Linked DNA regions of Homo sapiens: region 1 is linked to region 2. The links come from fine-mapping of genetic effects on gene expression. A gene starts in region 2. The other region holds a variant in brackets. All regions are shown on one strand. Distances are between the middles of the regions.

Region 1 (16,068 bases), 52 kb before region 2:
AATAATAATAAGGCTAAAGGAGTGCTCTAAACAGAAAGGAAATGATAAATGAAGGAGTTTTGGAATATCAGACATCAAAAGTCTAACAAAAAATACAACCAAAAACTCTACATATAAATCTGAGAGCTTAGATGAAATGGACTAATTCATCTAAAAATACAAACTGTCACAACTCAATATGAAATAGATAAATTAAACAGCCATATAACTATTGTAAAAGTGGAAATTACAATAAAAAGAACTCCCTCCCCCAAAATCTCCAGGCCCAGATGATTTCATTGGAAAGTTCTATCAAATGTTTTAAAAAGCGCTGACACCAATTCTATACAATCCGCTTTAGAAAACAGAAGAGAAAGGAATACTTTCCAGTTCATTTTGAAGCTAGTATTACCCTGATACCACCAACCAGTATGTCGCATTAAAACAGATGCAAAAATCCTTAACAAAATATTAGCCAAAAGAATTAAGCTATATATACAAAGATACACCACGACCAAGTGGAGTTTATCTCAGGGATGTAACAATGGCTCAACATTCAAAAATCAATCAATGTATCTACCACATGAATGGGCTAAAGAAGAAAAATGGCATTATGTAAATTAAGGCAGAAAAAGCATTTGACAAAATTCAACATAAAATTCATAATAAAAACTTGCAGAAAAAAAGGAATAAAAGATAACTTCCTTAACTTTAGCAAGAGCATCTACTTTAAAAACCTACAGCTAACATTATACTTCATGGTGAAACACTGAATCCTTTCTGCCTAAGACCAGAAACAAGCCAAGGATCTCTACTCTCACTGCTTTTATTTCTGCTGGAATTTCTACCCACTGCATTAAGGGACTGAAAGGAAAAAAAAAAGGAATATAGGTCAGAAATGAAGAGATAAAACTATTCATTATTTGCAGATGACATGACTATCTATATAAAAAAAAAATCCCAAGGAATCAATCAAAATCCCCTAAAATGAGTAAGTGGGCTCAATAAGGTCTCAGTATACAAAATAGAAAAATTCACTTTATTTCTATGTACTTAGAATAGACATGTGAACAGGAAATTCAAAATACAATGCCATTTACAATCTCTCTCAAAAATTAAATTGCTTAGGTATAAATCTAACAAAACATGTACAGACCTTGTATGCTGAAAACCACACAATACTGATGAAGGAAAACAAAATTTAACTGAAATGAAGTGAAGTGATCCTGTGATCATGATCGGGAAGGCTTAACATGGTAAAGATGTCAAATCTCCCCAAATTGATGTATAGGTATAACATAGTTCCTGTCAAAATCCCAGTAAGATATTTGAATAGATACAGACAAGATTATTCCAAAGTTTATACGGGAAGACAAAGGAACTAAGTGGCTAAAACAATTTTGAAAAAGAAAGTGGAATAAACCAGCCTATTTGATTTCAAGACTTACTACAGTAATCAAGATTTTGGTGTTGGTGGAGGTATAGACACATAGTCTAATGGAAAAGAATAGAAAACCCAGATATAGACCCACACGAATGTGCCCAACTGATTTCTCATTAACTCATTTTTGCTCAACTGATTTTTGACAGAGGTGCAAAAACAATTCAATGGACAAAAAAGAGCCTTTTCGACAAATATCATGTTGGAGTAATTGAATATCCATAGGCAACAACAAAAAAAATGAACCCAGACCTAAGTCTCACATTTTATACAAAATTAACTGAAAATGGAATATAGACTTAAAAGTAAAACGTAAACTATAATACTTTTAGAAAACAACATAAAAGAGAAAATTTGGGGGATCTAAGGAGAGAGGCAAAGTTCTTGATACCAGAAGCATGATCCATAAAAAGAAAAATGGATAGAGTGGACTTCATCAAAATTAAACACTTCTGCTCTGTGAAAGGCCCAGAAAAGAGAAATGAAAAGACATGCTACTGACTGGGAGGAAATATTTGCAAATCACACATCCAACAAAGGACTAGTATCTAGAAAAAAATACACACACACACACACAGAGGCACACACACACATTATTTAAAAGCCCTCAAAACTCAACAGAAAAAAAATCCAATTAGAAAAGACATGAAGAAACATGTCACTAAAGAAGAGATACAGGTGGCAAATAAGCATATGAAACAAAGATGCTCAACATCATTGCCATTAGCGAAGGGAAAATGGTAAATCAAAACTGCAATGAGCTGTCACTATACACTTATCAGAATGACTAAAATAAAAAAGAGACACCACCAAATGCTGAAAAGGACATGAAGCAACTAGATCACTCATACACCACTGGTGGGTATATAAAATAGTACAGCTACTTGGTATAAGTTTGGCAATTTCTTAAAAACTAAACATTCAACTACTATATGACCCAACTACTATATAACTGCTGGGCATTTGACCCAGAAAACTAGATTATGTTCACACAAAAACTTGTACACAAATGTTTATAGCAACTTTATTTATAGTAGCCAAAAACTGGCCCAATGTCTCTCAGCAGGTGAACAGTTAAACAAACTGTGGTACATCTATACTATGGGATTCTATTCACACTAAAAAGTACCTGTCAATAGACTTGATACACATAATAAGCTGGATTAACCTCCAGAAAATCATGCTAAATGAAAAAAAGCCAATCCCAAAAGGTTACATATTATTATGATTCCAGTTATACAGCTTTATTGAAATGAAAAAAAAAAAAACTATAAAAATGGAGAACAGATTATGGTTGCCAAGGGTTAAGAAGGGAGTAGGGATGGGAGTGAAGTGGGTATGGTCATCAAAAGCAAGATGAGGGATCCCTGTGCTAGAAAAAGTTCTGTGTGGAAACGTTCTCTATCTTAGCTATACCAGTGTCAGTATCCTGGGTATGATATTGTATGACAGTTTTGAAAGATGTTCACTGTGTGGGAAACAAAGTGAAAGGTACACGAAAGAGGTCTCTGTATTATTTCTTACAACAGCATGTGAATCTAGTTTCTCAAAAGTTTAGTTAAAAATACTAGCATTAAACATATTTTATACTTTATAAAGAATGGGCTCTATTTCAAATGTCCATACCATTCCAAAGGAAAGTATTGGTCACATACTCCATTCTAGATTTAAAGAAAATTTAAAACAACATAGAAAATTTCTAAATGACTAAGAAAAATGTTTGACCACAGATCAGGAAAAGACATAAGGACAATAGGGTAGCCCTAATTTTGAACAAAAAATGTTTGTTTATTGCCTCCAAGATAGAACATGAATTTCTTGAACAAGAAATGTTTATTGCCTCCAAGATAGAACTAACGTGAATGATATATAACTAAGGTTATCTTACTATTAGCAAATTTTGGTATATACCCACTGCAAAATAGTACTTAAATGTTAAAACTATGATAACCTTTATGAGGCTGAACATTAAATCTGGCCCTGGGAAGAGGTTGGATGTGGCCTGAGGCACATTGAAAATGCCTCGAAATGAACTCAAAACGACCACAGTACCTAGGTTTGAGATAAGAATGAAATAAAATATATTCCCCATTAAAATCTTGCTTATTTTTAGAATCATTACTGACAGAAGGATCAGCTTTGATCTGAGAGCTTTTCACCGTCAAGTTTTTAGCTATACAAGTTATTAAAAAAGCAAAAGCTTGCATCTTACTTGGATTAAAAACCTAATTTCTAGAAAACAGGTTCTCTTCTTTCTGGTCTGAGTTTAACATTTCAGATCTCCCATTAAACAACTGATCAAAAAACTTTCAGAGGGCATTAAAAAGTGAAACTAGGTATCAGAAAAATCTTAGTCGAGGCTAAATAACTGCATTTATAAGCTTTCTACCAATGCTATTAGGTGTTGGAGTTAGTAACTACTGCCTAACGATACTTACAGTAAACACTTAAAAATTTGTACTTTGGGTTGGCCAAAGTGGGAATTAATGCCCTTTCAAGTTTATTTAAAGATTCAATTCAGTTCTAGAAAACTCCCTCGTCAACAAGTAGAGGTGTTGTGCGTGTAACGACTGGACAGGAAATCTGGTTTTGCCTTCCACCACTTACATTTTAAGCATAAATGCCATCACTACACAAAACCTACGGGAATCCCACTCTAAGCAATTAAGTGACCAACCTCTTAAAAACTTGCCAGAAGCTACAGTGTCTACAAAAACCTATTTAGTGTGTTATTTAGCTCTATTTCTGCATTTAAAATTAGGATTATTTGGAGAAAAATATTACATAATATTCATGTTAACCAAATGATTACAAAAACAAAGAATTAAAATTGGTGTATTGATATGGTATTTGAATAATGAGAAAATGGGCCAATAGGAAGATTTTCTTCTTTATTCCTATTTGATTTAAAAGAAAAAGATTTGCCAAGGGATGGGTAGGGTTAAATTAAAAACATTTTAAGAAACATTTCTTTATATGGAGCATACTTACTGTTTTTGCTTTGAGTGCATTCTGATGAAATATAGATTCCAAATTCCCCTTGGATCTCACCCTTCTGTCTAGTGCTTTGCCCTCTATTTGGGGCAGTAATTCTATACATATCCTGTAAATGTCTGTCCTGATGATCAGGATGCCCAAGCTCTGAATCCAACTGCTGCCACCAAGAGAACGGCTCCTTTTTGGAGCCATTACACACAGATCATCACTCAAATCAGTAGTTTCTCTTTAGAAAACTAGCAATTTTCTGGTAGTCTGTCAATTAAGAAAAGAAAATGAAATTCAGTTACTTAGTAAGGAAAACTGGATAAACAGGAGGCTGGTCCAAACGGAGATTTATATTTAGACATTCCCTTTCTTCCTTGCCTCATTCCTTTCACACAGCTATTTCCCTTCTTTTAACACACCAAGTTCTTTTTATATGCCAAATAACAAAACATAAACTCCCTGAGGGCAGGAAGCTTATTCTTTTGGTTCACTCTTAGAACACTATGCCCAGGCATGTAGTAGCCTGGCAAAAAGCCGGCCCCAAATAAGTGCCAAATTAAGTATTTATTAAGCAACTACTACGGGAGGGAAGGAAGAAGGGAAGGAAGGAAGGAAACTGTGTTAAGTCCTGGGGCCCCAGAAGCTTAGTATATGTATTTTTTATTTTGGTTGGAAAAAAATGACTTGCTTACCATCTAGAGCCAATGCTTCTAAATTTTTCCATCAAAGAATCTTTAATGAAAGTGAGGAAAATTCTGAGGCTTCCACTTCACGTGGTTTGAACTGTACATCTCAGTGTTTGTTTCACAATTATGCTAGACTGTCAACTCACTTCTCTTTCTAGAATGTCCTCTGCAGTGCAGGTAGACCAGAAACCACACTTCCCACAAACTCCTTCTGTCTCTGGTTCTAAGTTGAGAGTTGACCATGAGAAAAGGAGAGACCATCTTTCCTCAGAGGCCACTGCAGACAGAAGTGTAGGCGGGCAGAGGACATGAGTTTCACAGCAGTTTCAAAATCTCTTGCAAGGCACTGGCTTTGGAGCTATTAACAGCTGACAGCTGGGGACAGCTCCCTGAGACACACTGTCAGTGCTGCACGCCAACAGCACAGCCTTCTGGATGTTCTCAAGAGTCACAGCAGTGCCTGGGCCAGCTCCTGAGATCCACCCACTTTGGGGCCGCAGACACCTTCCTCACCCACCCTTTTGATGTCTAATTCCCTATGTTAAAACACTTTACACTTATAATCCATCAAGTGGTTTCTGTTTTTCTAACTGAATTGTTAAAATATGCAAAATTCACATTAAAGAAGTTTCCTACCTATCTTGTGACCTCAGTGAATGAGATGCTGCTTTATCCAATCTACTGACTTTGGAAAATCCAGCTGAAATGAGGAAAGATAATCGTGCATGTCTGGCAACCAGGTAATTTCTTTCCTATCTTTCATGTCACAGTATTTTGAGGACACAAATTCCTAAATACTCAGAAAAAAATGGTTTTATCTTAATTGATTTATAAATTATGTTAGGGTAGTTGTTAAACAGAATTTTGTCAAAGAAGCAGTACACTGTAACACTTTCAGGCTCCCATTGGTTTAAAATTTGATAAGTGTATTTCTTTGCTGACAAGTCAAACTGTTCAAATGTTATGGAGGACTAAAAAGGCCTGGGATTCACAGGCTCATTTTTTGTTTTAACTGAATCATGAAAATACACAACTTTTTTTTTTCCAGGAAAGACAGATGTTATTTACCACCAATGAATTTTTATCATATTTAAATGAACTTGAAAATGTCATTCAACTCAAATCCCTCAATCAACTTACTTCAGCCCATTCTGAAACTTCATATTGCAGCAAACCAGCCATGTGAAAGAAATAAATTCAATTTTGACTTTCAAAAAAAATAAATGCTGCATAAGTTACCCTTGTGGACCTTAGCTATTAAGGTGGACAATGACTTTATTTTCTTTACGTAAGTTTTATATTTTATTATGACATTCATTTTTTCTACATGAAGACACAAATAAAAATTATACCAACTACATAAACTATTTTGTACTTTCCTTGCTAAACCACAGATGTATTTCATGGAAAGAGGGGCCTTTAAAGGCACTTATTTATCATTGTAGGTGTGTCTAAACAATTGATATTCAAAAACACAACTTTTTGTGTACAAAATTTTACAATTTTTAACAAAAGCAGTGAAGACACTAAATAACCCAGTGGCGACCTCTTCAAAGTGCAGTGTCCTTGGTCACCAATGCAGATGCTACTGGGGCAGCCAGCGGGCTCAGAGGGTCCAACTCCAGACACTGCATCCATGGCTGTCCTAGACTGAGTTGCACTTGTAAAAGAGATGGTCCCACACCTACTAAAAAAACAAGCTACTCTAGTATCAATATGACATCACTCTTTTACCATCAATCATATTGCAAAACCATAGTATTTAACGACCAATAAACAGCCAAATACCTAATGCCACATTGTCGTTCAATTTACCTGGCTGGTTAATATCAGTCTGTGTTTGAGTATTTCTTTTGAGCACACAAAAACAAATGTATAGTCACTTGATGAGGAAATTCTTCACTTTGACTCAAATGGATTCACCATGCTGTCAGTTATGAAAACAACTCTAATTTTAATCTCCACAGGGCAACCTTCACTTTTCACAGCAGTTCTAAAACTGACCTACAGAAAAGTTCAAGATTTTTTAAAAAATTTGGCTACCATACTATGTTTCTTATTTAATTTTCTCTAATCAATACTACTCTTACGTTCCAAATATTTCATGGGAAATTTTTCCCTCAAACTTAATATGTTTCTTAAACAAATTGAAGCCACTAAAGTTCCTGTTTAAACCACTGATAACTGCCCCAGTTAAAATAATAATAATTTAAAATGATTACACTTCAAATAAAGGTACTAAAATCACGCCCCCCAAATTTGTAAGCGCTTTTGTTGTTATTGGGTACTCACTGTGAATAGAAGTAAATGTACTTGACCTGTATGAGAATAAACATTTTATCAAGTACAGCAAAAAAAACGGAACTGATTGTGAAAGCCATGGGGATGGGACTTTAAAACAGCGGTAAGACGCTGGTTTATCACCAGAAACCTCATGTGCCTCTGTGCACTTGAAGTAAAGACCACATTTGAGCAGGCCTGGTGGGCTGGCACAGGCCTCAGAACAGGTGCTGTTTGTGTGAATTCTCCTCCCTGCATTGTCCATTCTGTTCTAGGGCAGTCTGATTCTGGCAACAGGAGTCTCTAAGTTCCAATCACTCACTCACAAAAGAGTTTTCTGTAATCCCTTTTGTGGAAAAAAATGGAGTTTTTCTGATATGCAAAGCAACTTCTACCAGTCTGACAAAGTAGGTAAAATCGATGACACCCTAAAATAAAAACCTGGAGTGAACTGGTGCTCCAGAAAGATGCTGAATGGCCACAGTGCATGTGGTGATGTCTCCATGCTGAGGTTTCAGGCAGCACAGCACTAAGTATCAGGTGACCTGTGGTCCCACCAGAGCATAGTCCTCATGAAATAGGCCTAACCAGATACCTTTTAACTCATCTTTATTTTGGTTGCAAAGATGTGGTTTACTTAGCTACTTACTATTTGTTCCCATTTGAAGTCTCAGAGCTTGCCAAGTTAAACACCGCCTTCAGTACCGA[G/A]CTGCTATACAAGAACATTATAAAATACAAAGTATAAACTAAGATAATCCTCTTTACAGAATTCAGATTAGTGCATTAAAACAACATTGATTTAAAAAGGGAAGTGAGATAACTGGCAAACCTCCAATTGCTTTTTTAATGAAGGATGACACAAAATGGCACGCAAGGTAAACACTAAATTTTGTCAGGTGCTCAAAAACAGTTAATTGTGGGAAAGTTACTTTCCAAAAGTAATTTTGACCTAAAAATATTAACCATTATTCTATAAGACATAAGGGAAGGTAAATAATGGCCCACAAAACCAGATGATATGGTTAAGATAACTAGTTTAGTGGAATAACAAACTGGGGTCTTAAGAATCCAAACGCAATAGGTATTGGTATTGGTTGTTCATACTCTTCTTCCAAATTATGTTAAACATTTTTAGTAACTACACTTTCCCCCGTAAACATCAGACTTAAATAGACCATATGTAAAAACAACCTATCCTTAGTAATTTTACTAGGCAATCTACAGCAAAAGCTTAATATATACACAGAAAGAGTATCAAATAAACTAGAAAAGTATTCACCGACTTCAGGGTAAAAAAGATCTTAAAAGAAAACCAACAAAAAAATGAAAGACACTTTGTGCTGTTGTGAACCAGAAAAATACAACCCATGTATAGACCTTAATTATTTTACATTATTGAGAATATTTTCCCTGCTGAAGCAAATCAAAATTAAATTTGAGAATTTTAATTGAAGTAACACACATCTAGGTGTGTCACAGTGACAGGGAGATGCAAACAGAATACACACACCTTTAAATTTACGAATTCCCAAAACTAAGTCAAGCAGGGTAAATAAATTATAAATGAAAGGCATATGCAATGTGGGCAAAAACTTAACAACTATTAAATTGAAGACCAAGGGAGTTATGTCAGCAGTGACATTTAGAAAATCTTTCAGTATTAGAAAATATCAGATTTAATCCAAAGGAACCACCCCAACCCCCCCAATAAAAATAACAAAGTATGGGAACCATCCTTTATACAATAGCTTTAAAATAATAATTAAAAAAACATGATTACAGGAATCTTCCTACATAATTTAGACAATGTAGTGCGACAGTGTGCTCCTTTATAACTTCAGTGGTTCAATCCCCATATGATGAGACTGATAATCGCAACTCCAATGACAAGGATAAGAATGATGATGCACAGGGTTTTTCTGGATTTGCGCTGCAGACGCAAAAAACAAAACAAAACAAAAAAACATGTTTACAGATTTAGTGGAGTACCTCTACAGCAACTAAAAATAATTTGGTTCATTTCTAGAGTAAAATCAGTAGTAGTATATTGCCCTCAAATTTTTGACTGTGTTTTTTTGTTCCTCAAAAATCTCTTTAATACATATGGCACTATTCTTTCAAAAAAATTCTTGAACTAATGCTACAATTAAGGGAGCAATTTTTCAACTTTCATTGGTAATTTTTCTAAGGGTGTGGCTGACCTTAAGAAAGAAGACACCACTAAATAAGTTACTGACTTAAACAAGAGACTGAGGTTACCTATGAATAAAAATAAAGAACAGCTTACGAGCTTAAACATTCTTTACCTTTTATTAAAGTTTTTCTTAAAAATGAGTTCTCTGAAGATATCAGTAAGTACAAATTGGCAACTTTTCTTCACATATATTTCTTTTCTTTTTTTTTTGAGATGGAGTCTTGCTCTGTCACCCAGGCTGGAGTGCAGTGGCACAATCTTGGCTCACTGCAATCTCTACCTACCAGGTTCAAGAGATTCTCCTGCCTCAGCCTCCCAAGTAGCTGGGATTACAGGCGCGTGCCACCACACCCAGCTAATTTTTTTTTTGTATTTTTAGTAGAGACGGAGTTTCACCATGTTGGCCAGGATGGTCCCATTCTCCTCACCTCATGATCTGCCCACTTCGGCCTCCCACAGTGCTGGGATTACAGGCGTGAGCCACCACGCCCAGCCCCTCACACATATTTCTTGTTTCCAAAATACAATGATTTTGGAATGAGTTTCCAAAATCATTCTCATTCTTTAATATTAATGGGAAACTACATTCAAAATCTCAACAAACAAAACCACAGAGCAAACAAAATCATAATGCTGTCATTGAAAACCGAATGGTTAAGAATTTTGTTCCGTTCTTCATTCCTGGTTCAGTTGTAGATTTCTTTAATGGCGTTTGTACCTCACATCAACATGCAGGAATCCTTTTTCTTACAAAGTAGAAAAATTTGTAAATTTACTTTGTGTCAAGTAGAAGTACCAAAATATTTATAAAAAGATACATTTCTGAGTCTGAAATTACACTGAAAACCATAAATAGTTTGAATATTCCACATATTCATCTAATTTTTCCAGTGAATACTCCTTACGTATCAAACACAATTTCTCTAAAATTTCAATACCATGCATAAATATTTTTCCCAGACTCCAGTTGGTTACCACAAACACACATGTAATGTACCTGTGAGTCATCACGGGTATCCCACAATGGTGTGTTTGTTGCCTGGGGTACTCCCCCTAGCGTGGGGTAATGAGACCCTGGGGCAATGTGGTGATAAGTGAACTTGAATTTCTCACCTTCCTTATTCTTAGGGTTCACCCAAACATATCAAGGCTTCCAAACAGAACTATTGGAAAGCTGCCTCTTTTCTCAGCACTTGTGCTGCATGGCCATCTCGTCCCGCTTCGGGAGCTGGGGGAATTAAGCCTAGGGGCAGCTTCCAGTCCTGGGGTGTAGCTTGGGACATGTGCTTTTTCCTGTAGGCTTGGCCTTCCACAAGGAAGAGGAAGAGTAAAACTTGGCAGAATATCCACATTTCCCCCAAATCCAAAAGCAAAATAAAATACCATGTGAACCTAGTCACTGATGGATCCTGTTAAGTTTCAGCAGTTATATGCTAACAGCTCCAGAAGACTTCTGGCATTTGCAGGGGTGTGTGTGTGTGTGTGTGTGTGTGTGTGTGTGTGTGTGTTTTCAATTATTCGTGAGGGATACCTAAAGTCCATGACACAGTGATATAGTGATATTAATTTCACTGAGCTGCATATCTGAATGACATGGACAAAGATAATAAACAGGAGTGACTGTCAGTGAATACAACTGGTTATAACTCAGCAATCTCCATAGCTTCATTATTATTTACTTATCACTGAATATGCAGTAATTTGTCCAGTAAAAGATGGACTGTGAAATAAAGGCAACTTCTAAGGTTAGTGAGAAAAACAAAAAGCAATTGAAAATGTCTGAGAAGGTGACAATATCTTAGATATTTTATAAGAAGTTAACAGCGGCTGGGCATGGTGGCTCCCATCTGTAATCTCAGCACTTTGGGAGACTGAGATGGGTGGATCGCTTGAGCCCAGGAGTTCCAGACCAGCCTGGGCAACACAGCAAAACTCTATCTCTACAAAAAATACAAAAATTAGCCAGGCGTGGGGGTACACACTATTCGGGAGGCTGAGGCAAGAGAATGTCTTCAGCCAGGAGGCAGAGGTTGCAGTGAGGCAAGATGACACCACTGCACTCCAGCCTGGGCATCGGAGCCAGACTCTGTGTCAAAAAAAAAGTTAATAAGGTCAAGAAAATGATAATTATGAATGATAGCAACAAAGGAATGGAGTTTTAAAAAGGAAATCAAATGCTACATGGTATTTAGGGGTTTCCAAAGAGCCTGGCCTTATCCAATTTGAACATCAAAGGTCTGCATATTGTATGATGTATTAATAGTTGATAGTTCTAATATTTGTATAGTACTTGACATATAATTTATATTTGACACATGCATGTGGACTCCCTATATTAACCCGACTCAAGAAATAAATTCATTCCTGGTGAAGGGTCTGCTGAATGTGGACAGAATATATAATGAACAGTGACACTCCAAGCTAATATGATTTCCACAAGACCTGAAGCAATCTCTCTAGGACAAGGAAATTTGCCTCTTTAGTCCAGTGTGTCACTGACAAAAAGAAAGAAAAAGTAAAAGGGAGCAGCAAGAAATGGGAAGGAGGGGCCTATCACAAAAAGGTTTCTGGGTAGAAATGTCACAATGACATCAGAGATCCCCGGCCATCAGAAAGCCTAGAATTGTCTCTGCCGCCCAAACACTAAACTTTCTCTCCCTGTGGGCCAACAATTCTGGTTCAACCCTGAGAAGAACACAGGCTAAAAACAGTTCTAAACTGACTGGTATTATTTAAACAGACTTCTCTTCCATGGGATTTTAAATTTTAACATCTTCAGCCATTTTAAACCTAATCTCTCCCTGCTTCCTCAACACAAACACACACACACACATACGAAAAGGATAAGTTATAAGAAAATTGATCACAGTTAAATTACCTGATAATCTGCTGCCCTTGACAGCTGCTGATTTGCTTGCTGAACGTGCACCTCTGCATTTTCCACATTGGCTTCTATGCTATCTGTAAAATAAAACACACACACACAAATGTGTTAAACATGGATTGATGCTCCAGTAACAAATCACTAAATTTCATTCAAGGTAAGATTAAATATGGTCATTATTCAAAGGTTAATAGTAGTATATCATAAAGTTGAATTTTTTTAAGCTGGCTTTAAGAATTATAGTATACACCTATACTATTTTTCAGGTGATCCAAACAATATAAGAGCATTTGTATAACAGAACCTTAATCATCTTCATTACAGAGCAACTCCAGCTCTACCTGGCAACCCCTGAAAAGTACTGTCACCCTGACATTATCAAATCAGTGTCAGCACAAGAGATGTCTCAGTGTCAAACTCCACAGCTTGGTCTATGTCAAGACCAATGCACAAGAGATCAACTCTCTTCTTTCTACTGCTGAAGATTTTGTTCATCATGATAAAAACTGGTACCTTGACTTTTCAAAGAATATTATGTCCTCAGAGGGAAACAAACAAACAGAAAAACCCAAATGCTAAAACTTGATCCCTTAATCATTATGTTAGTCATTAATGTTTCTCAATTTCTTTTCCCTCTATGTCTTTGTAAATGGAATGTAATTTAAGTTACTGGAGCATAATACCTATGCTCTACTTAGTTTGTGTTCTGTAATGGCCGACTCAGTAGCAAGCATGTGACAATGTTTATTTAAGGTAAATACAGAGTGCTGAAGGCCATTTACTCTGTGGTCATCAACATACTTCTGTGCTAAAATCTAGCCCTCACCGAGGGCCCATGAAGCCTTCTCAATTGGTGGCAGTTTTTCTTCCCACCCTCCAGGGGCCTGGAGGTGGAACGGGTGTCATTTTGAAGCATGAGACCCTTTGCCCTTGTCTCTTCCTCCCTACCAGCTCTCAGCTTTAAGGCTCATGCTATCAAACTCAGCCAACTCTCTTTGTTGCAGACATCTATCAATCGCATGGCCTTTTCTTCTCATTCCTTGAATATTTTAGCCTCTGACTCACTGATGCTCTCTCCAACACTTCTCTTATACATACTGGTGACTTCAAGATCCAACTGCTGACCCTTCTAACACCCTGGCCTCACAGTTCACTGACCATACTTTTTCCAAAGACGAACACCTTTCCTCACCCACCCATTTCCATGGTCACATCCCAAACCCTGACATTCCAATAATTGCAGTTGTTCCATAATCTCAATTTCAAGGGTCTCACTCTTTGATCACCACCTTCTATCTCTAGAGCTCACTCCTTCTAATTCCCTGGCTCCAACAATTTTCAACTTTCATTGATCCTACCACTTCTTCACTGTCCCTCACATATGGCATGTCCTCACTTCCCTCCTTACCCTAGCCTTAGAGTCCTTGGACAATCACTTAGCCTCAGCTTACTCTCATCCTTAGCCCCCTTGCCCCTCCACTTTAGTCATATGACAAAACCCCAACCAGTACCCATGCAGCTGATTATGGATGTAAAAAGGATTAACTGTGTTTCACTTTAAAGTCATGACTGCCAAGCAGGTCTACTTCATTTCTCTGACTTCTGAAAGACTACGTCATACTTTCTCTTCTCTCCTCAAGCTTCTCAGGCCTCCTCTGGCATTATCATTCTCAGCCCATGACCTTGATTTCCAGCTCTTTGAAGCAACAGGAACCATCAGAAGACATTTCCACACGTTTTCATGACCCTATCTACATGCAATATTTGTGTGTTCTGACAACTTTCTTGTTGCCAGGAAGAACTATATACCCCGAGCAAGAGCCAAATTTTCCATTTGTGCACTTTATCACATTTCCTATCATTTAACTCAAAAACCTCAGTCCAGCAAACTTCCTCTCTCTCTTACTTATCATCAGTATTTCTTTCCCTGGTAGATCACCTTCATCAATCCCATAGCTGCCATCTTAAAAACAAGCAAACCAAAAACCTCTCATTTATTCCACATCCATTTTTGCAGCTATGACTGCATTCTCTGTTTCACTTCCCCTCTTTACTCCTTGAAAGAGTTATCTATACTTGGTATCCACCACTGTTCTCCTCCCATTCTCTCTTGAGCCTACTTTTATCATGCTTTCACCTACACTATTTCACCAACACAGCTCGTATTGAGGTCACCTATGCCCTACACACTGTTAAATCCAGTAGTCAAATCTTAATCCTCATTTTTCTTGGCCTAACAGCAGCACTTGAAACAGCTGACCATCTATTGTTCTGGAAGCACTTTTTTTCACTTCCCTTCTAGGACGATGCATTCATTTGGATTTCCTCCATATCACTGGCTATTCCTTAGTCTTTTTATTTGTTCTTCTTCAACTGTCTGGGCTCTAAATCAGAGGTTAAGAAGCTTTTTCTGCAAAGAGCCAGAAAATGAATAAGCTTTGTGGGTTGTATGATCTCTGTTACAAGTATTCAGCTACCCCTTCACTGTGCAAAAGCAACCATAAACCATACATAAATGAATACATGTAGTTTGAAGACACTGTTCTAAACATTTAGAGGATCCAGGGCTAAGTCCTCAGACCCCTTCTATTCTCTACCCAGACTTAATCCCTGGATTATCTCACCCAATCTTGTGGTGTTAAATACTATGTGTACACAGATCACTCCTAAATTTAGATCCCCTGCCCAGACTTCTCCCCTGAACTCCATGTTCACTTTAATAATGTCAAGAAAACCTTCACTTGGTGTAAAGGGGCACCTCAAACTTAACATATTCAAAAATGATTGATTTATACCCATCTAAGCCTGCTCCACTTACAGATTTCCCCATCTCAGAAAACAGTAACTTCACCATCATAGTGGGCCAAGCTAAAACCTTAGCATCACCCTTAAATTAACTCTTTCTTTCACACTCATACCCAGCCAGTCAGTAAATCTTTTCGGCTGTCCACTTAAAAAATATCTGAAATCCATGAACTTCTCACCATCCCTCTAGTTCCATCCTAATCCAAGCCAACAAGATTGAGCATCTGGATGACTGCAATAGCCTTTTAGGTGACCTCCTTGCTTTTGGTCTTTTTCCAGCAGCCAAGTGAGTCTTTCGAAACTGAAGCAGGGTTATAGCACTCTTCTGCTCAACTCCTCCTTGGCTTCTCATTCGTTTGTAAAAACTGAAATCTTCCTACCTGACATCATCCCCTGCACTTGGACATGATCTCCATCTCCTTCTTGCTCATTAAAAATGTCAGGTATGCTTCTGCCTCAAGGCCTTTGTACTCGCTGTTCTCTCTGCCTGGAACACTTTCTCTTACTTGCTCCCTTAAATCTACCAAGGGTTCACTAAAATGTTACCTATCAGTAAGTACCTATCATACCTAACTACCCTGTGTCAAGCAGCAACAATTTCCACCCCTAGCAGTCCCATCCCTCTACCCTGGCCTTATTTTCTCCATAGCACTTATCACCATTTACTTGCTTTTCTCGCCTTTTTAAAAAATTGTCTTTCCTCCCATTATAAGATCAATTGAGATAGGGTATTTTATCTGTTATTTAATTTCAGCTGAATCTCCAATGCCTAGATTTGTGTCTGGACATAGTAGCCACTCAACATATTTCGGAT
Region 2 (16,068 bases):
TATCTTTCTCCAATATTTAAAACAACTCTTAGCACAAACAGGCATTTAAATATTTATTAAATGGAACACAGACTTCAGGCTATCCCCAGAAATTTCACTGTATTAGGTTGTGCAAAAGTAATTGCAGTTTTTACCATTACTTTTAATTGTGGTTTTTGCCATTAAAAGTAATGGTAAAAATGGCAATTACTTTTGTACCAACCTTAATATCTAATTTAACACACACACAGGACCTGCTCAGGAATGTATGATTAATAGGGCTCTAATTTTAATGGAAAAGGTTAAATCTGAAATAGCAGAGCCAACTACTGCGAAGCAAATGTCATATAAAATGTTTATCAAACCTTCCTGACAGAGGAAGGAGAACGAATGACTCTCCCCTTTCAGCAGCCAGCATCTCAGAATAGAAGAGACACTGAGATACTGCCACAGGAGGCAGGTGAGATGACATTCTCTACCTCTTCAATCCACACCACTCCAATCAGGGTTTGGAAAGAAGGTTGAAAAGGAATGTCCCTGCATACAGAACTGCGCACAGCAAAGAATTTCAACTACCGCCACCCCATCTTTTCCATGAATATGCACTGGAATACTGCAAAATTGTTGGTGGTCAATTTGTAAGCTAGCTCTCTACTAAGAGCCTGGTACATGCCCAGCATTAAACTAAGCACCTGGGAGATGCAAACAAAACAAAACACACTGACACAGTATCTGCTCAAATCAAGTTTGTCATTTAGGAGGAAGGATAAAGTTAATAATGCAAACCAACAAAAAACCCCACAAATCCATAAAAGATCACGTGCTAGGCTAAAATGAGAAGGGCTACAAAAAGAAAAAATGACCATCATCCTTGTCTGGAAAGAATTTATGAAATAGAAACATAGGATTTGGATGCTTGGTTATGACCAGTATGCAGAACAACAAAGGCAAGGACGTGAAGGCTGGGGTGGAGAGACCCAGAGCACGTGGAAAGGCCACATGCAGTATGGTATTTACAAAAGGAAGGGAAGGTTCCTGGCCAACCCTGGATCAGATGATTCACAGCTGGGACAAGGGGAAAACAACATAAAGGGAAAGAGAGGAATGGCCTAACATTTCTCGCACATCTGCGACACAAAAAGTATTTCACAGACTAATTTTTTCACAACCTCCTTCAATTAAGTGGCATTATTCTTGTTTTAATGATGAGCAAACAGCGGGCTTATTATGATTAAGTAATGGTAACCCAACCCACCCACAGGTGGAGGTGAGATTCAGTCCCAGGGTTCTGATGCCAAGGCTATCCATGCTTGCTACCACATAGAACTAATGCCACAGAAGATTTCTGGTAGAGAAGAAGCCACAGTGAAGTATGTGTCTTTGCTCTAAGGGACAGTGTTGGCAGGAAGTACAACAGCTGAACTGTTGAGACCATTAGAACAGTACTGGTTCTATGCCTGGAACTCTGGTGCACTTTGAATGTGCCTGGCCACGCTGAAAGTCCTGGTGGCTTTTAGATATTCTCCAACTTCCCTCTCAGGTACAGCTGATCTATTCTGGGCTCTCTGGGTCTCACCAAATCCTAGAGATGGATCCAAAAGCAATTTCATTAAAGGGTAAATTCAAACCTAAAGTCAGACAGCTGGACCACTACAGTGGGGAGACAGGAATAAACTTCCTTCCAGGTAGCCTTGGACTTGGGCCCAGACAGAACAAGAGTAGACATGGGGATTCAATGACACCAACACCATCCGGAACATCCTTGAAACCATGCAATTTTAAATGCATCTCCAAGTCACTTAAAAAAAAAAAAAAAAAAAAAAAAACACAGGTTTTGAATAGCCAAAGCAATTTTAAGAAAAAGAACAAAGCTGGAGGCATCTCATTGCCTGACCTCAAATTATACTAAAAGGGTATAGTAACTAAAACAGCATGATATTCATATAAAAACAGACACATAGAACAATGGAATGGAATAGAGAAGTCAGAAGTAAAGTCACATATCTACAGTCAATTGATCTTTTTGACAAAGTTGACAAAAACATACACTGAGGAAAGGACGCCCTTTTCAATACATGGTGCTGGGAAAATTGGATCGCCCCATGCGGAAGAGTGAAACTGGACCCTTATCTGTCAACATATAAAAAAAAAAATCGACTCAAGATGGATTAAAGACTTAAAAGTAATACCTAAAACGATTAAAATACTAAAAGAAAATATAGGGAAAACTCTTCTGGACATTGGTTTAGGAAAAGAATTTATGACTAAGACCTCAAAAGCACAGGCAACAAGACAAAAAACAGACAAAATGAGATTTAATTAAACTAAAAAGCTTTTGCACAGCAAAAGAAATAATAAACAGAATGAACAGACAACCTGCAGAATGGGAGAAAAATATCTGCAAACTACACATCCAACGAGATTAATATCCAGAATTTACAAGAAACTCAAACAACTCAACAAAAAACCCCACAAATAACCCCATTAAAAAGGGGGCAAAGCACATGAATAGACATTTTTCAAAAGAAGACATACAAATGGCCAAGAAGCACATGAAAAATGTTTAACATCAGTAAGCACCAGATAAATGCAAATTAATACCACAATGAGACATCATCTCACAACAGTCAGAATGGCTATTAAAAATTCATCCACAAACACATCTTGAACGGAAAAAAAAGAAAAAAAGTCAAACAAGTACAGATGTTGGCAAGAATGCAGAGAAACAGGAACACACACACTGTTGGTGAGACTGTAAAGTAGTACAACCTCTACAGAAAACAGCATGGCAAGTCATCAAAGAACTAAAAATAGAATTAATATTTGATCCAGTAACCTCGTTACTGGGTATCTACCCAAAAGAAAAAAAAAACCATTATACCAAAAAGATAATCTGCACTCATATGTCTATTGTAGCAATATTCACAAGAACAAAGATTTGGAATTAACCTAAGTGCCCATCAAGTGTCTATTAACATTCCTGAATGGATAAAGAAAATGTAGTGTATATAAATGCAATGGAATACTATTCAACCTTAAAAAAGACTGAAGTTATGTCTTTCACAGCAACACAGATGAACTGGAGGCCATTATCTTAAGTGAAATGACTCAGAAAAAAGTCAAATGCTGCATGTTCTCACTTGTAAGTGGAACCTAAATAATGTGTACACATGGACAGAGAGTGGAATAAGAAGACATTGGAGACTCAAAAGGATGGGAGGGTGAGGGATGAGAAATTACTTAATGCGTACAATGTACATTATTCAGGTGATGATTACACTAAAAGCCCAGACTTCACGCTATGCAATATAACCATGTAACAAAACTGCATGTGCACCCCTTAAATTTATATAAATAAAATGGCTTTATTGAGATATAATTTATTGAGATATGGCAATACAATACACCTACTTGAAGTACACAAGCCAATGGTTTTTAATATATTTACAACATTGTACAATCATCACTTTTAGAACATTTCTATTACGCTAAAAGGAAAGTTTGTAATCATTAGCAATCGCTCTCCATTTCTCCCCAACCTCACTGGCCAAAGGTGACTACTAATCTACTTTGTATCTTTATAGCTTTGCTATTCTGGACATTTCATAGGAATGGAATCATACAATGTGTTCTTCGAGACTAGCTTCTTTCTCTTAGTATGCTTCCAAAGTCCATCTGTGCTGTATCATATATCAGTCCTTCATTCCTTCATTATTGCCAAATAATATTCCTTCATTATTGCCAAATAATATTCCAAGGTATGGAGAAAGACAATTTTCTCTTGGTTCAATGACATCTTCCTTTCTCCTTTCCCTCTATCAAGTAGATCTCTGGAAAAACTGGCTTACAAGCCAAAACAAACACATTGAATGAAAAAATGTTCAGTTTGTTATTCATGTAATCTCTGGGGATGCTCCTCCATATACATGGTTCCATTTTAATCTATACCTGAATGAGTCGCACATCCATGTCTCCAGCTCGTACCCTTGGCTTTCTCTCGTGTCTACATGTCTGTGAAGCTACAAGAACTCAGCCATTGCCTGTGCGGCACACCATGGAAGTAGCAACTGGAAATTTCTACTTTGGGCAAGACACTTAGCATTTGGGCCCACTGCCAGAATCAAAATGAGATAATGCACATCCAGAGAACAAATGCTTTTCCACCCTACACAGAGGAAAGTTATGATCTGTTCTTGCAGCTGCAGGACCAGCATCAGCACAAGACCAAGAGAAACTCATCACCTGTCTCAAAACCATGCAAGCACACCTGAGGCCTACTCTCTCTCCCATAAAGAGTTCCATCAAGTCAAGGACAGTATTCTACAGCATTTTCCTTACCCTTAAAACTCACACCAGTGTAGCCCAAGTCTTCTCACTGTTTTCTTTCAAGGCCACCTTTTTTCCTCTCTGGAAAATCAATCACTTAGTCACAAACACAATCAATTTTCTTCATCCCTTTCCTCAAGCTACTAAATGTGAGAAAGTTCCTGCTGGTGAGACAATTGGCAAGTGGCTTCATTCACCCAAAGAGGTGCTACTTAGATTGACTGGAATTATGAGTTTTGTTTTACTTTTTCTTTGTTTGGCGTTGTTGTTGTTTGAGACAGGAGCACCCAGGCTGGAGTGCAGTGGTGTGATTACGACTCACTGCAGCCCTGACTTCCAGGCTCAGGCAATCCTCCCATCTCAGCATCCCGAGTAGCTGGGTCCACAGGCACCTGCCACCACATCCCACTAATTTTTTGATTTTTTTATAGAGATGGGGGTCTCACTTTGTTGCCCAGACTGGTCTTGAACTCCTGGGCTCATGCGATCCTCCAGTCTCAGCCTCCCAAAGTGCTGGGATTACAGGTTTGAGCCACTGTATCTAGCCAGGAATCATGTGTGAAGAATGAAAAGCAATTTGCAAAAGATAGAGAAGAAAGATGTGTAAAATAAAACAAAGTTAACAATGGCCAACACTCATCCAGGACTTACATTTCCTAAGCATTGTGCTTATGACTTTTAAATTTATTTTCTCAGTTAATTCTTATAAGCCTATCATGTGGGTATAATTGCTAATGTGATTTTTTTACATGAAGAAACTGAGGCATATCATTATGCCTCATTATCATTATAAGCAAAGGAGCAAATATTTGAAAATAACCACAGAGCCGACATTTTTTAAACACTAAGCCATACTGCTTCCTTGTATAACAAAATTGAGGGCAGGTGAACTCAGTTAGAAAAACCAAATTTGGGCTGGGCGCGGTGGCTCACGCCTGTAATCCCGGAACTTTGGAAGGCCAAGACAGGCAGATGACAAGGTCAAGAGATTGAGACCATCCTGGCCAACATGGTGAAATCTCATCTCTACTAAAAAAATTAACTGGGTGTGGTGGCATGCGCCTGTAGTGCCAGCTACTCAGGAGGCTGAGGCAGGACAATCGCTTGAACCCAGGAGGCGGAGGTTGCAGTGAGCCAAGATCACGCCACTGCACTCCAGCCCGGCGACAGAGCGAGACTCGTCTCAAAATAACATAACATAACATAACATAACATAACATAACATAACATAACATAACATAACATAACATAAAATAAAAAAAGACAAAAGAAAAACCAAATTTACCACTTTTCTGCATGCCCCATATGAAGTTTTGCTATTCCCACTCCTAAGATGAAGGAATATGTTTGGGATAACTACATGAGTTGATCAAGGTAACACAGAGGAATAGCTTACTCCTTTTCTCTATTATTCTGCTAATAAGTGGTATCTAAAAGGCAACAACAGTTGGCTCTTTTGATAATGAGACACACAAAGGAAAGGAACCAAATGGTTGTCTTTAAAAAATATATATACAAGCATAGACAGACAGGATAGGTAACTACAAATTGATTAAAAGCTTATGATCTCTGCATATAGGCTAAATGGATGCTGAGTTATTCAGATGTCTGCTTTCCACATCAGTCTCCATTACCTAGCCCAGAGCTGCTACGCACTAAAGTACTCTTGTTGAATACTTTTGAAAGCCCACTCAGAATTCCTATTTAATTGCTCAGAATAATAATTATATAATTCATTACCTAGACCTGTACTAACAGACTAGCCACTAACTAAATGGGCTGTTAAAATTATAGTGGTTACTAGAAGCAGAGAAGGATGGCGGGAAGGGGATAGCCAAAGGTTGGTTAACTAACACCAAAATACAGCTAGGTAGGAGGAATGAAGTCTAGTGTTCTATACCCCTAAAAGGTGACTACAATTAATTACAATTTATTGCATATTTTCAAATACTTAGAAGAAAGAATGAATTGTGAATGCTCTTAACACAAAGAAATGTTAAATGTTTGAGGTAATGGATATGCTAATTACCCTGATTTGATCATTACACATTGTACACATCTACTGATGTATCACATGTATCCACAAATATGTAAATCATTATCTGTCGATTAAAATAATAAAAGCAAAAAAATCTTATTACAGGTTATTTTAAGCTGCTAACAAGATAACTGATTGCAGTAAGAAACTACACTTTTACTCTACATTTCATTTTTTCATGTGACAATTTACACCATTTTATATTGTGTATCACTTAAATTACATTGTAGCTCTCGTTTTTAAAAAATTAAAATTAATTAAAATTAAGTTAAATGAAAAAAATCAGTTCCTCAGTCACACTAGACACCTTTCAAATGTTCAAAAATTCTGTGTGGCTAGTGGCCAGCAGCTTGGACAGCTCATTCATAGACCACTTCCATTATCACAGAAAGATCTATTGCACAGTGCTAATCTCCACATTGCAATAATCATCTTTCTATGAAGATATACAAACACTATAAAGAGAAAAACAGGAAGGGAGAATCAAAGTGCAACACTCAGATGAGAGTCTTCTCAAGACGGCTTCTAAAGAACACAAAGGAATGAACAAAAGGAATGTTAAAATTTAATCTTGAAGTGTCAAACACTACTCCCAGTTAAAATCCGATATACTGTAGAATCCTTAAGATTTCCATTTAGCATATATCTCATGCTCTATAAATCTACCCTGGGCAAAGAAGTAGTCAATTTCACTTTCTTAATCATTAGCATCAGCATAAACAACTGGACTTCTCTATACCCTCTACCCCAAGTAAGTTCTGAGGGGTGGGGGGTGAGCATTTTTTTGTCTGTTTTGTGGACTGCACTATTCTCACTGCCTGGCTACATCACAAGTGCTTAACAAACATTTGTAGAATGAATGAATGTACCCACCTCCTAAGAACACACACCCAGCGTGAGGGTAAATATTACCATTTCCAAAACATAAAATTCCAGTGCCTTCTTTCAGATACCGAAGGTCCCAGGCTTCTTGCTGCCTTGGGCCTTTGCTGGGTGCCATTTCCTATTTCTAGAAGGCTCTTCCCATGATCTCCACGTGACTGGCTCCTTCTCCCCAGCAAGGCCTCATCACATGCTAGAGAAACCTTTGTGACCACTCTGATATGAAAGTGAGAACTCACCACTGGTCACTCTTTGTCAATCTAACTTACTGCTTCACAATACTCAAAAGTCGAATTAATCACTGTTTATTATTTATCCCTACACCTCTGGAATACAAACAGGAGCTACTTCTGGAATATAAACAGGAGAGAGATGACCTTGTCATCCTGTGTAATCTACAGTGCCTGGTGCATAGTAAATGCTCAAGGAATGTGAGGGTGCTCTGTCTACATAAGTATCCTCTGCAAAAACTACATTAACTGTATTCTTTGGCCTTAGCTCTTTCATCACTGACCTTTTGTACTACTTGGTTTTAGTTCACAATACCGAGGATTGTTTTTTTCATACTTTCACACATGAAACTTGCAAATTAAATGGAATCACAGCAAACTTCACTCAGACTTACTGTGAATATTTTCTATAATTTACTTTTCAATCATCAGCACTTAAAGTTTGGGGTCATAACCAAAATAAGGATTGATTTTGTTATCAAGAGCAACATAAGTAACATATCTGAGGAAAAATTATGATGTTAATCAGTTAATATGGTATCATATTAACCTCTACAGAAACTGTGAAGTTAAGAGCATAATTCTTAACTAGTCACGAGTCTGAGGCCAACTTCTCAAAGTAGCCTATAAGGCCTGTCCACAACACAAAACACAGTTTAACACCGTTATCAGCCTCTGCCCAGGTGTGCTCAGAGAACCTGCAGAAGAAATGTCCACTTCCAACATTATTAAATAGCACAGCATTTCATAATTACTTTCTTTTCTTCCAGATTCTGGGCAAGTTTTATATATTATATATAATTATAGTCAGAATACAACGATCTGAGGTAAACAAAAATTAACGTATACAGATAAGAGCCAAACAAATGTAAGAAATTTGTGGGAAAAAACACACAGCATTTGATCAGAAATGCAACTTTTTTTCTTTGTCTGAATTTAAAGAAAGTAACTAGAAAACAAGGTGGAGGAAATACTAGAAATATTTTATGTACGTTTAAAGGTTTTTATGTAAATTAATTAAAGGTGTATACTCAAAGAATGTCAAAGTATGTTAAAGTCATCAAGCCAAATTAAAAAAACAATACTACGATCCTCTGAATAAATAAACATACACGGTTCGCCTGCTACAGCCATACATTTTTCAGTTCCTCTATATTCGGGAAGTTTAGTGTGTTTTTCAATCCGTGAGTTGAAAAGAGGAAGAGGTCATTTGGTCGTGTCTGGATTCCTGAGCTGGGCCCCAGCCGGCTCTGGCGCCCTCCCCGGGGTGCGCTCCGCCAGCCGTGCGCCTCCGGAGCTCTGCCCAGGGGACCGCGGCGGGTGCGTGGCTGGGTAGGCCCACCTGACCACAGCCGCGCGCACCCGGAATGCGGAACGCGCCGCGCCCTTGCACCCGGCCGGGGGGCGTGGGGAGCCGCAGGCGCTCCGGGAGCTGGGGCAGTCCCGCCCTTCCTAGCCTCCCGAGTGCCTGCTGCAGAGCGCAGGGCGGCGGCCACCTGACCACGCGCACAAACAAGAAGGCGCAGCAGCCGCAGGGGCACCGCGCCTCCCTGTCGCCCGGCCAGGGAGCCCCCTCCCCAGGGTCCTCTTACCTGGACCTCCACGGCTCCCTCCTACACCTCCGACCGCCGTCACCCACCTACCCCGGAGCCCTCAGCTGCAATTCTCAGCTGATGGGCGGTGGCGTGGGGACGCCCAGTGCGCATGCCCGCAGCACAACTCAGGAAGAAGGCGGGGTTCACCCCTTTTCTATTGGCCCGCGGGGCTGAGTGACAGCGGCCCTCACCGCCCCTCCGGTTCCAAGCTAAGGAATGGGGGTATCAGCAAAATTGCAAGGGAGCTGTTCTTTGAAGCCTGACGTAGAGATGGTGAACGCCTCTTAGCCTGCGTGCAAAAAAGGACAGAATGGAGGACAGTTGTCTTCTTTATCTGGTGAAGCCAGCCTTCTTGCACGCGGGTCTTCACCCCGCCCCATTAGCTCTTGCCTGTCTTGTTTGCTAACCTTTAACTGCAGTAGATCGCGTTGACAGCTCTATCGAAAAATGCAAAGGCGAGTACACAATCCTAGCAGGAACAATGAAGGAATAAGTGAAGAGTCATCTCTGGGTGCTCACTTGTAAACAAGTTTTCCTAGTACATACAAGTCATTCTAAGCATTCCTGAAAAGCAGGGCGTAGTTTTCACAGGGTTTAAAACAAGCAGAGACAGTTCCAATGATAAATATGCAAATATATTGTAATTGTTAGATGAAAAGCATCAATTGCTACAAATGAAAGAAAGCCCTCTCCAAATTAATTAGAAGATAGATTGGCTTAGCCTTTGCCTATATTAAGGCAACACTATTTTCTAAAATGATTACCCGGATAGGTGATATCAAAAGTCCAGACGCACTTAGGTGGAAAAAAACAAAACCCAGGATAGAATTCTGATTGGAACTCACCAACACTAAGTGTGGAATGTTGTCTGCTTAAGAGAGATGGACAGAGAAAGAATAACCCTGAAAACGAGTAACCCACAAGATAGGAAATAAACCAGGAAAAGGTAAACTAGAGAATGAAGGAAAAAAGGAGGGAATTGTCCATGATGTCACCTGTTACACAAAGTTCAAGTAAATAAAGAACTGAAAGTAGTGCATTGTACTTGAGAATTAGGAAGTGGCTGGTGAACGTAGGAAGAAACATTTCAATCATTGAAGGAACACATGAAAGGATCTTACATCCATGTGAGGTTTAGTGCACTTTCCAAATACCCATTCATATTACCTTTGATAGAACTCTGGGCTCCGGGGAGGGAAGGTACAATGCACTACAGAAGAACCTGAGATTAAGTGGCCTCTTCAAGTTACCCTGATAGTTACTGACTATGCTGGGCCCAAAACTTAGCTGTCTGAGCCCTCATCTTGGGCTCATTCCAATTCCTTGTTTTAAAATATGTTATGAGTGGATTCCTTCCAGGTCTTTTGAAAACTTAGAATAAGATTTCATCCTTTGGTATTCAAATGGGAAAAAAAAGAATTATAGTCTAGACAAACTTGCAAAATTTAGAAGTATTAAGATAAATGAATTACTAAGAGTTCCTGACACAGTATTCCATCTGTGAATCTGGCTGCTACCAAGTTAAATTCAGCCAGGTGTCTTGAAAGTGGTAGGGCTTTAAAAGTCTCCTAATTTGATGAGTGATAATGTCACATCTCCCAAAATAAATCATTTCCATGTGCAGAAGTTACCTATGACTGAAAGCTTGTAATTTGGATTTTCAGAAATAGTAATTTGCGAGATTTGGGCCTTCTTGGAGAGATTTTGAAGGAAACCAGAAGTTGTTGAGTGGGGAATGTTATCTGCACACTTGTGGTGTCCTTATTAATATAAATACCATAAATACCTCCTATGTAACATCTCTCATGTAGGATGGAGAACTGTCCACTGCTGTATCTCCAGTGTCTGGGATAGCAATTCCAGGGAATAGAAGGAGATAATTGCTGGTTCATTTAATAGTTACTGAACTAAAAATATTTTTTACATGACCACTATGTGATCTTCTGGGAAAGCCAAAGAAGTAAAAGACGCATAAAGGTAAATAGAGCAAACAGGGACTTATTGGTAAGTGAGAAGGACAAGTTGACTTATGAAGGTTTGTTTTTATTTATAATACAGTGGGAAAACCACAACTGGTTTAAAAAATCTATGCTAGATTAAAAGGAAGCTTAAATTAATACTTAATAAACAAGAGTTAGTTCAGTTGTGCCTTATTGTTAAGCACCTTCCATGTCTCTCTACAGTCTACTTGTTTTCTGTTTAAGATCACACAAGTGCCTAGTCATATATCAAGCACAGAATTGATTTTGCCCTAGCTTTTGAACATGGAGGTAATAAACAGATATCCCGTGGAAATCTTACATGGGCCATTATAGCATGATGACCGGTATATTTGTTTCTAATTTTACCTCCTGATGACTGGTATTTTCGTTTCTAATTTTACCTCCTAAGTGTTGTTCATATGTGCCCTCTTCTCTCTGTCCCTCACGGTTGACATCCTGATCCACTGCAATAGCCTCCTTGTTGGATCTTCTATCTCCAGGTCTTCTCAACTTTATTATTGTCAAAGCCACCACTGAATATTTGAAGCTCTAATCTGAGAACTTTGCTCCAGGCTTCATGCCATTTCCATGATTGCAGCATTCCCTGAACTGTATTTCTTAAGAAAAAAAACCAAAATAATTAGATTGGGGAGAGCTGGGGAATTGTGTGGGTTGAAATAAGGAATCAGGGAATTGGTCTACAAAGAAATGTTTGGGAAACATATTATATTGCATTCTTGAAGATTCACAGAGCATATTTGTAAATTAAAGACGCTGAGAAGTGGTTCAGGAAAGAAACAAGTAAAAATTTCTTTTACCCAGTATTTTATGAGTGTATTTGATGGTGGAACTTGCCTGTAAAACTTTTAAATATGCATAATGGAAAACACTGCTCTCAAAATCAAGTCCAAGCCCCCTGCATATACACAGGGTGACCATATATTTAGTTTGCTAGGACAGCCCTAGTTTATGCTTGTTGTCCTGGCCGCCTGTCTTCTGAGCATGCCCTTTCATTCTCAAACGTGCTTCAGTTCAGATGATGCATCATATGGTCCCTATACATATAAGGACCACATGGTCTGATCCTGCCTTTCCAAGCATCAAAATTTATGCTTGGAATATGTTGGCTTAAATAACTCCTCTTTCTCTGTCTGCTCTCCCCTCCATCCCAGCAGCTAGCTCCCCAGTCACAAACCAGGGGTTTTCTTATTTCTGTGCTTCGCTCACGTAGTTCCCATTAGCTAGAAAACATTTTTTCTTCTCCCCCATGTTTTAAACGATTCTTTATTTTGGAATAATTTTAGATTTATAGAAGAGCTGCAAAGATAGTACAGCACTCCTGTATATACCTCACCCAGGTTCCCCTAATGTTTCCTTAATGTTAACATCTTACATAACCATGGTCCACTTGTCAAAACTAAGAAATCAGCATTGGTATAGCAGTACCAACTAAATTAGCTTGTATTCTCCCTGCTCCAGCTCTAGAATCAGTCATTTTACTATTAAGCACTTCTTCTTTTTATTGGAAAAAGCTATTTAGAAATCAAAGGCCAGGACCACCAGGCACAGTAGCATGGCTCACACCTGTAAACCCAGCACTTTGGAAGGCGAAGGCAGGCAGATCATTTGAGCCCAGAAGTTCGAGGCCAGCCTAGGCAATGGGGCAAAACCCTGTTGTGATGGTTAATACTGAGTGTCAACTTGATTGGATTGAAGGATGCAAAGTATTGATCTTGGGTGTGTCTGTGAAGATGTCGCCAACAGAGATTAACATTTGAGTCAGTGGGCTGGAGAACACAGGCCCACCCTTAATCTGGTGGGCACCATCTAATCAGCTGCCAGCAAATATAAAGCAGGCAGAAAAATGTGAAAAGGCTAGACTAGCCTAGCCTCCCACCCTATATCTTTCTCCCGTGCTGAACGCTTCCTGCCCCTGAGCATCCAAGTTCTTCAGTTTTGGAACTCGGACTGGCTCTCCTTGCTCCTTAGCCTGCAGACAGCCTATGGGACCTTGTGATCATGTGAGTTCATACTTAATAAACTCATATATATATATATATATATATATATATATATATATATATATATATATATGTATTCCATTAATTCTGTTCCACTAGAGAACCTTGGCTATTACACCCATCTCTACAAAAATTAGCTGGGTGTGGTGATGTGCACAGTAGCTATAGTCCCAGCTACTCAGGAGGCTGAGGTGGGAGGATTGCCTGAGCCCAAGAGGTCAAGGCTGCAGTGAGCCAAGATCATGCCACTGCACTGCAGTGTGGACAACAGAGTGAGACCCTGTCCCCCACCCTACCAAAAAGAAGAAAAGAAAAGAAATCAAGATCAAGGCACTAACCTTCTCATTGTTACTAGGGTGTCAGTGCTTCTACGCTCCCCTCAATGGACAGAGCTAGGAAATAAATTTATATATACTAATTCATGTATGTAGGATATTTACTCCAGGCTTCATGCCATCCCCATGTTGGCTGCATGCCCCAAAATATATTTGGTAAAAATAAAAGTGCTTGGACTGGGCAGAGGTGGGGTTTGTGTGAGTTGGGGTAAGGAATCAGGGAATTGATCCATAGAGAAATGTATACAGTATACATTATATGCAGTATAAGCCTTGTATAAAGTATGTCTATAAATTTAATTTTACAAGAAACTGCCAAGTTGTTTTCCAGTTGTTTTACATATCCATAGCTATATCAGATTTTATCTATATATATAAACACGAGTTCATCTAGGCATTCCCAATTCTAATCCAACATTATAGGGGTCATTCTAGCCTTCCCTTGTCCTAATTTTTAGCTTCTTTCGCTAGAAGTGAGAAACCTAGCTTCCATTATCTACCATTTATGTTCTTATTTCTATAATGTAAAAAATTAGGTTGGTGCAAAGGTAATTGTGGTTTTTGCCATTAAACCGCAATTACCTTTGCACCAACCTAATAGCTTCAGAATTGCTAACTCCTACTCTGTGTGAGAAAAAAATCTTTAGTGCAGTGTTTATGTACAATTCTTTTTGTCTTTAGCCTTATAATATTGAGTCAAAACAATGTTTTCTAAAAATCACCAAGGTCGGCTCTTTACCCATCCCCTTCAGTGAAATTAGGTTATGTTGACTTTGCAGTTAAATTCAGTTGTCATAGATCTGCATTTTATCCTATGATCCACAAATATACTGATTGATTTTTTAAATTTGTATAAAGCTCATTGTTTGTGGTATATAGTTCTGTGGATTTTTGACAGATATATAGAGTAATGTATCCATAACTCCAATACCATAGAGAACAGTTCTACCATACTGAAAATTCCCTTTCACAACAACCCTTATTCAACCCATCCCCCTCCTCCCACCCTTGGCAACCACTTATGTTTTCTATCACCAGAGTTTTGCCTTTTCCAGAATGTCCTATAAATTCAATCATACAATATATAACCTTTTGGGTCTGATTTCTTTCACTTAGCAGAATGCATTTAAGATACATCCACATTGTTGTATAAATCTATAGTTTGTTTTTTTTTGTGGCTGAATAATATTCCATTGTTTGGATATAACACAGCTTATTTATCCATTCACCTGTTGGTTGTTTCCAATTTTTGGCAATTATGAATAAAACTTCTATAAATACTTAAATACAGATTTTGGTAAAAATAGAAGTTTTCAATCATTTGAGTGAATATCTAGAAGTAGGTCTGTTGGACTGTATAAGTGTATATTTATTCATTTATTTTTGCTTTAAATATTGCTCCGGGGGAGGGGCCACCACACGTCTACTCAATGAAGAGAAATGTTTTTACAATTTACAGGTATTTTTTTTACACCTATTATGGCATGAATTCATAGGAAATAAGTTCTAGCAGCCTCCTTCTTATTGGTTCTCACACAGTGTGCTTCTCTGGATGGAGCAGGCTGCTGCTTTAATTGAACTCAGGTGACTTTCTCCTTGAGATCCTTTTCTGATCGTTTTCCTTCACGTGTTTGAGGAAGCTGTCTCGGCACTTAGAGTACTTAATATGCTCAATATGCACATCAATTATCTTGGCAAGAATCATGCCGTTAACTTGTTTGTTTACAACAGTGCCAACAGTATGCTGGGTTACATTGTAGACTCTTCCAGTTTTTCCATGGTGATAGTTGTGGGGCATTCATTTTTGAACAGCACCCAACCTCTTGATGACTACGGTATAACCTTTCTTGTAGATTCGCATGTATGTGACCAAAGGAACAACTCCATGTTTTCTAAAAGGCCTAGAGAACATGTATCAGGTGCCTCTCCTCTTTCCCTTTGTGTTAATCATTTTGGCAAATTACTGGAAGATGGCAATTCTGGCTCTACATTTAATTTTACAAAATACTTCCAAATTGTTTTCCAAGGTGGCTGTATCATTTTGCATTCCCATCAGCAATGATTGAGGATTTCTGTTACTCTACTTCTTTGTCACTTTTTGATATTGTTGAATTGAAAAACATTTTTTTTTCATTCTCATGGGTGTGTAGTGGCATGTCATTGTGATTTTATGTATGCTTATTTGAAATCCATCTGTCTTCTTTAGTGAAATGTTAATTCAAATCTTTTGCCTGCTTTTTATTGGGTTGTCTTCCCACTGTTGAGTTTTAAGAATTATTTTTGTATTCTGGTACTTTATCAAATATATCATTTACATGTATTTTCTCCTAGTCTGTAGCTCTGTAGCTTATCTTCTCATTCTCTTCTTTTAAAATTTTTTAAATTTTCTTTCAGAAAAGATCTGGGATCTGGCTATGTTGCCCAGACTAGAATGCAGGGGCTATACATAGGCCTGATTGTTGGACATACAACTTTTTAAACTTCTGGGCTCAAGCAATCCTTTCTTCTCAGCCTCCCAAGTAGCTAGAACTATATGCACATGCCACCACACCCAGCTCATTCTCTTAATGGTGTCTTTCATGGAGAAATAAGTCTTTAATTTTGATAAATTTTAGGTTGCCATATTTTTGTTTTATAAATTATGCCTTTAGTGATTAATTTAAAAGCTCATCACCAAACC

What was found.
Region 1: its variant is fine-mapped to the expression of STX7 in monocytes (TOPMed, PIP above 0.99). The same link has a PIP of 0.9 or more in T cells and blood mononuclear cells.

The regions. Positions count from the first base shown.
Region 1 is chr6:132,451,550-132,467,617 of GRCh38, forward strand. It overlaps STX7 (syntaxin 7), which reads right to left. Exons shown (of 10, transcript NM_003569.3): 9 at 12,444-12,526; 10 at 1-9,301. The coding sequence ends at 9,209. Among named protein-coding and RNA genes, the nearest start is that of STX7, 54 kb to the right of the region's middle. RefSeq lists a silencer at 13,981-14,275. The variant G/A (reference allele first, on the strand shown) is at 8,080.
Region 2 is chr6:132,503,960-132,520,027 of GRCh38, forward strand. It overlaps STX7 (syntaxin 7), which reads right to left and starts at 9,157. Exons shown (of 10, transcript NM_003569.3): 1 at 9,048-9,157. It also overlaps the pseudogene RPL21P66. RefSeq lists enhancers at 8,405-8,906, 9,264-9,463 and a silencer at 8,624-9,113.